Linked DNA regions of Homo sapiens. The gene in region 1 interacts genetically with each later gene. Each region holds a gene or a part of one and is shown in the gene's direction. Other genes may lie near its edges.

Region 1 (3,500 bases):
GTTAAATCTCTATATGCTGAGTAGGTATGGGAGGGTCTATAGCACAAATCAGTCAAATTGTAAATGTCACCCCTCTTAGTTGTTTTTCGCTCGAAAAAGTATTAGCAATGTGTGTTCGATGTGGGAGTACTGGAGTCTACAAGGAGGTAGAAAAGAATAGCAGAAGGACCCTCTATTCTTGGCTAATAGCTCCACACAAGACCATTCACCTCTTAGATCCTGCTGATGACTTCTGAAGGACCCTAGGGCCACCAGGCAGGGAAGGGCTCCAAGGTGAAGAACATGGAAGGTACCCCATCCTTCAGTTGTAGGTTCTTAGCCACTTTCAGCATCCTATAGCATGAGAATCTGATAGAGTAAATGGTGATTAAAATTTAGAAGCACTAGCTTTATTCATAAAATCCAAGAACTGGAAGCAACTCAAATGTCCATCCACAGGAAAATAAGCACATTGTGATATATTCATACAATGAAATTATGCCTAGCAATTAAAAAACAGAACTGCTGACAGGCACGGTGGCTCACGCCTGTAATCTCAGCACTTTGGGAGGCCAAGAGGGGTGGATCACCTGAGGTCAGGAGTTTGAGACCAGCCTGGCCAACACGGTGAAACCCCATTTCTACTAAAAATACAAAAATTAGCTGGGTATGGTGGTGCATGGTGCATGCCTGTAATCCCAGCTACTCAGGAGGCTGAGGCAGGAGAATTGCTTGAACCTGAGAGGTGGAAGCTGCAGTGAGCCGAGATCGCACCACTGCACTCCAGCCTGGATGACAGAACGAGACTGACTCTCAAAAAAAAAAAAAAAAGCTACTGATGCATGAAACAACATGGGGCTGTCCCTCAGAAATAGTGTGTCAAGCCACCGGGCGCAGTGGCTCACACCTGTAATCCCAGCACTTTGGGAGGCCGAGGTGGGTAGATCATGAGGTCAGGAGATCGAGACCATCCTGGCTACCATGGTGAAACCCCGTCTCTGCTAAAAATACAAAAAATTAGCCGGGCATGGTGGCGGGCACCTGTAGTCCTAGCTACTCGGGAGGCCGAGGTAGGAGAATGTCGTGAACCTGGGAGGTGGAGCTTGCAGTGAGCCAAGATTGCGCCACTGCACTCCAGCCCGGGCGACAGAGCAAATCTCCGTCTCAAAAAAAAAAAAAAAGAAATAGTGTGTCAAGCCAAAGGAGTTCATGCTAATGAGTCCATTTATATGAAGTTTAAAAAGAGGCAAAATGAAGCTATGGTGCTGGAATTCAGAGCGGTGGTGACAAGGAGGGGAGGGGCATGCGGGGACTTTCTGAGCTGGTAGAAATGGGCTATATCTTGGTCTGGGTGGTTATATACATTGTGTACATATGTAAAATTCATCAAGCTATAAACTTAAGATTTGTGGTTTTTATTGTGCATGACGTACTTATTGGCAACTAATGAAATTGGGCACCTTTTTATTTATTTATTGGCTGATTAGATATTGAGGCCATTATTTAAGAAATTAAACTAAAATTGGTCCAGGCCCAGTGGCTCACGCCTGTATTCCCAGCATTTTGGGAGGCTGAGGTGGGCAGATCACCTGAGGTCAGTAGTTTGAGATCAGCCTGGCCAACATGATGAAATCCCATCTCTACTAAAAATACAAAAATGAGCCAGGTGTGGTGGTGGGTGCCTGTATTCCCAGCTACTCAGGAGGCTGAGGCAGGAGAATCACTTGAACCAGGGGGGTGCAGGTTGTAGTAAGCTGTGATCACGCCACTGCACTCCAGCTTTTGGGCAACAGAGTGAGACTTTGTCTCAAAAAAAAAAACAAAAACAAAAAAACAGGACGTGGTGGCTCACGCCTGTAATCCCAGCACTTTGGGAGGCCAAGGCGGGTGGATCACCTGAGGTCAGCAGTTTGAGACCAGCCTGACCAACATGGAGAAACCCCGTCTCTACTAAAAATACAAAATTAGCCAGGCATGGTGGCGCATGCCTGTAATCCAAGCTACTCGGGAGGCTGAGGCAGCAGAATCACTTGAAGCTGGGAGGCAGAGTTTGTGGTGAGCCGAGATCACACCATTGCATTCCAGCCTGGGCAACAAGAGCGAAACTCCGTCTCAAAAAAAATAAAATAAAATAAAATAAAGTTAGAAAAAATAAGAGGAGAAAACAGAGATGAAGAATAAAAAGGGGAGACCTCCATGGTTGGCCTATTTACTTAATCAAATGGCTCTTATTGAGAGTGTCACTTCTGCCCTTGAGCTTTTTGATGGCAAAATTGTATAAAGAAATGCAGTAATTTGCTTAATTGTCATTTGAGAGGAAAAAATGTGTCATACACTAGGAGAAAGTTTTCTCTGGTGCCAACTCGTGGTTCACCGTGTACAACTTTAGAAGTGGTTAACAGTTTGACAGCAAAGCAGAAATCATATGACTTGTTTCTGGCATACGTAGATCAAAACTTAAAACATATTTAGCCATGTTAATCCTCTTGTGGTGTAGTTTATCAGCAGTGATTCTTGAAGGGAGGTAGTAACCAAGGTTCCGTGGCTCCTGAGACTTCTTGGGGCCTGATTTGATTAACCCAGGAAGAGTCTCAGACCTCATGAAGTACTGCCAGGTCTGGCAGCACTTGGCCAAAGCGGGCAGGTCTGTGTTGAGGTTGCTTTATGCAGACTAACAAAGGGATCATTCTGCTGTGTACCTGTCCCTATTCTAGACCCTGGTGGGCAGCAGTGGGACCATTCTGACCACAATGCCTGTAATGATGGGGCAAGAGAAAGTGCCCATTAAGCAGGTACCTGGGGGAGTCAAGCAGCTTGAGCCCCCCAAAGAAGGAGAAAGGCGGACAACCCATAATATCATTGAGAAACGATATCGCTCCTCCATCAATGACAAAATCATCGAATTGAAAGACCTGGTCATGGGGACAGACGCCAAGGTGGGTGCCAAGCAAAATTGTGTTTTATGTTCCACCATCTCCCCTCTACCTGTTTTTGCCTCAGGAGCCTAGAGAAGTCCCAGGCTCAAGGTAAGTGAATACAAGACCGAGTTAGAGGTGCTTTTTTATTAAAGCATCTTGGTGTCATGTCAAGATTATAAAATATTAAAAAACATAAGGGACTGGTGAGGGTTGATAAGGCAGTGACCCGCTGAGACCTTTGACTCCTTTGGCTATGCTCTGCAGTGATGGGGACTCCACTGTCAGAGGCAGAGAAAGATGCCTGCCACTCAGTAGTTCCAGATACAGGACTGTGTGTACCTTGGAGTCAGCTGATGGCATAGTTTTAGCTGTGTTTAGGGGTTACCTTTTAAGGAAAAGAAAGAAAAAAGAGGTTGAGTCTTTGACCAGCAACACATAGAGGAAACTGATGTTCCAAATGTTTCTGGTGTTTCAGTGTATGTGTCTTCTAGAAAGTAGGAGATTTTATTTTTAAAACCTATCTATGTTTAAACCCTATTTTGAAAGAAAATTTCATTTTCCTTGCCTACAAATCTGAAAGCTGTACATCCTAAGTAAAAATCT
Region 2 (3,500 bases), on another chromosome or scaffold:
CAAAGCGAGACTCCATCTCCAAAAAAAAAAAAAAAAAAAATATATATATATATATATATATATATATATATATATATATATATATATGACTTGGGAGTTATGCATATCACTTACCAATGCTGGTGTCCTGTTTGTCAAAACTTAGCCACTAACCAGGCCAGGCATGGTGGCTCACGCCTGTAATCCCAGCACTTTGGTAGGCCAAGGCGAGTAGATCACTTGAGGTCAGGAGTTTGAGACCAGGCTGGCCAACATGGGGAAACCCCATCTCTACCAAAAATACAAAAATTAGCCAGGCATGGTGGCGCATGCCTGTAATCTCAGCTACTTGGGGGGCTGAGGCAGGAGAATCACTTGAACCCGGGAGGCAGAGTTTGCAGTGAGCCACGAGATTGTGCCACTGGACTCCAGCCCAGGAGACAGAGTGAGACTCTGTCTCAAAAAAAAAAAAAAAAATCTAGTCTCTAACTAGTTAGCTATGTTTCTAGGAAGAAGAGGAGCATATTGGAAATACTGGAAACTGGACAAGAGTCTGTCCCCATGTTTTTTTGTCTGCATGCATTTATGTCTGGTGGGGTGAGGTTGCTTTTGATGCAAAGTGAAAAATGCTCTTTTCTCCCGATTTTTCATTGAGTTTTTCATCCTTGTCCAGGGATATTGTATAATAATCAGAAATGTGCTCTCATGTGGCTAAAAGCTTTTGATGGCTCTTATACACACTGAACAGTTGAGTCAGTGAGAGGCTGTAGTGGTCTAGCAGTTGGATAAGGTGAGATACTTATGTTTGCTTATCTCTCTTCTTTGAGTGTGCGGTGAAACTTGCCAAAATGGTGGGTTATGTGAGTGCTGGGACTGTGGAATACCTGTACAGCCAGGATGGCAGCTTCTACTTTCTGGAATTGAATCCTCGGCTGCAGGTAGAGCACCCTTGTACAGAGATGGTGGCTGATGTCAATCTCCCTGCAGCACAGCTCCAGGTGAGTCTCCCTGATCTGGGTTGCAGAGCCTAGAAAAGTCAGAGAGGCCTGAAAAATGGGTTTAACCAGTGTGTGATAAGAGAAAAGCACCTCCTATCTGAGTCACACCTAATGGTCATTTCTCTTTCACCCTGTATGTGTTATGCATGTGTGGTTTGGTTTTCCTGATGTAGTACAGACATAGGAATGTTATTTTTTCTAGCCAGACACATCTGATATAATGTGTCATGTTTTAGAAATAAATGTTAATAATGTATGCTTTATTCAATTATTTAGCTATAGTAAACTTCACAACTTTGTATTATAATTATTCCCTACTCATTTTTGTTTTTTTACTAGTGTTCTTTATTGAAATAATTCTGCATCAGAGATTAGTGGTTGAAGTTTTTCCTTACAAGAGTGTGGTAGCACACATATATTTTTATAATTTGTAAAGTGCTTGCTGTCAATATTATTGTCTTCTCTCAGCCCAGGAAACAAATATTATGGAAAGCAGTAATAGTTAATGATAAGGCTTGATATTATTTTTATCTAACATTTGCCCACATCGAGAACACCTTCTGGGTTCCTATTAAAGACTAAAGATTTACTTACTTCCTCCAGTGGTTTGCAGGGATGGAAGAGATAATTATGACACAATTAAGACTTTCTAGCTGTCTGTTTTTGGATGGCTATTAACATTTACTCCTCTGTTGGATATTTTCATTCTTATTACGTGATGGAGAAATGACAACAGGGGAACTGGTGTCTGTTGCATTAGGAATGTGGGGACTTCTTTAGAAGTGGAGAATATTCTAACTACTTATCTGTAGTGATATATTGTATTTCAAGCAACTTAGAGTTGATGATTGTAGAATACAGGTTATAAAAATAGAATGTTTTAGGGAGTGGCTCCAAAAATAAAAATATTTTAGGTTATCTGATAGCCTCTACACTTTAAGGGAAGTAACTGAAAAATTAAAGATGTGTGTTTTATTACCTTTCAGATTGCCATGGGGATTCCTCTATATAGAATCAAGGATATCCGTATGATGTATGGGGTATCTCCCTGGGGTGATTCTCCCATTGATTTTGAAGATTCTGCACACGTTCCTTGTCCAAGGGGCCATGTTATTGCTGCTCGGATCACTAGTGAAAATCCAGATGAGGTAACCCATCACTTAAAAGGTTTATACCTCCTTTTAATGAACTTTAATGTTAAGATAGTATCTGAAAGTATACTTCTGAAATATCTTGGGACTTCCTCTGGAGTGGGAAACATAGAGGTTTCTCAGAGCAGATAAGTAAATGGTTGTTGCTTCATTGGTTACTTAATCCCACTTAAGTCACTGTAGAGTCTTCAGTGGGTCTGTGGCACTGGGTCTTGGCCTTTATCATTTTTGTGTGTCTTCTCTGCTTCTGTGTGTGATTAACAGAGAACTTAAACAATGAATATATAAATCTTCTCTTCCTTCGAAACATAATATGGTCTCTCATTCTTTATTCTCTAACAGGGTTTTAAGCCCAGCTCAGGAACAGTTCAGGAGCTAAATTTCCGCAGCAATAAGAATGTTTGGGGATATTTCAGTGTTGCTGCTGCAGGGGGACTTCATGAATTTGCTGATTCTCAGTTTGGTCACTGCTTTTCTTGGGGAGAAAACAGAGAAGAGGCAATTTCGTGAGTATAATAGCATTTGATTGCATTTTACAAAATAAATTTGTGCTAATCTTAAGTGAAGGTGTGAGCATGGGAATAGGAATCATCTGCTGTCAAAGTAATAATATGAACAACCTTTTTGAAGAAATTTTGAATATCTTTAATTACACTTGCATTCATGTTGTATTAAATTATGCAGTGCTTGGCAGATGTTTTTCTGTTTGTTGTTCTGAGCCTTTTGAAGTATTTTTCCTTTCAAATATTTTTGATAAATGTATAAAATTGATTGCTTTAAAGGTATCTTATTTTTCCACAGGAACAGTATTGTTATTGAGGGGAGGTAGATTCTTGGCCAAGAACTAGGTATCAAATAAATCATAGACTTTTATTTTATTTTTTTCTTGTGAGAAGACTTAAAATCTATTAGCAATTTTCAAGTACACAATCTATTGTTATGAGCCATAGTCACCATGATGTACTCTTATAGTTATTTAAAATAATAAAATTATACTGCTCATATTATGAAAAGGACATAAAGAAACTGTCTACATTGCTAATACAAGAGACCTTAGCATGCTGTATATAACAGCTTATGCAAATATAACTGCTATATCATAAATGTTAGATAATATTCTGTTAATCATAAACAATGAATATTAAATTAACAGCACTTTTGCTTGCCTAAAACATAGGGCTGAAGGAGGTAATTTTAACAGCTTAGATCTTTTGGAATATCTATCTAAAATTGAAACTTGAACTAGTTCTTTTCTGTTTTTTAATGGTTTATTGCCTTGTATCAAACATTTAATACCATTCCCTTTACCTTTGTACTGTACATGGAGTAGGTAATTAATAAGTGTTTATTAGTATTAATTACTAATAAATAG

What was found. A genetic interaction does not mean that the proteins touch.
Region 2: changes in SREBF2 (region 1) and ACACA together harm fitness more than expected from each alone (negative genetic interaction), as found in Homo sapiens cells (one large-scale study listed by BioGRID).

Annotation. Positions count from the first base shown.
Region 1 is NC_000022.11:41,871,105-41,874,604, forward strand, and holds part of SREBF2 (sterol regulatory element-binding protein 2), read left to right. Parts: intron 1-2,693; coding exon 2,694-2,915; intron 2,916-3,500.
Region 2 is NC_000017.11:37,256,837-37,260,336, reverse strand, and holds part of ACACA (acetyl-CoA carboxylase 1), read left to right. Parts: intron 1-806; coding exon 807-977; intron 978-1,963; coding exon 1,964-2,125; intron 2,126-2,470; coding exon 2,471-2,634; intron 2,635-3,500. UniProt on the Homo sapiens protein: Cytosolic enzyme that catalyzes the carboxylation of acetyl-CoA to malonyl-CoA, the first and rate-limiting step of de novo fatty acid biosynthesis.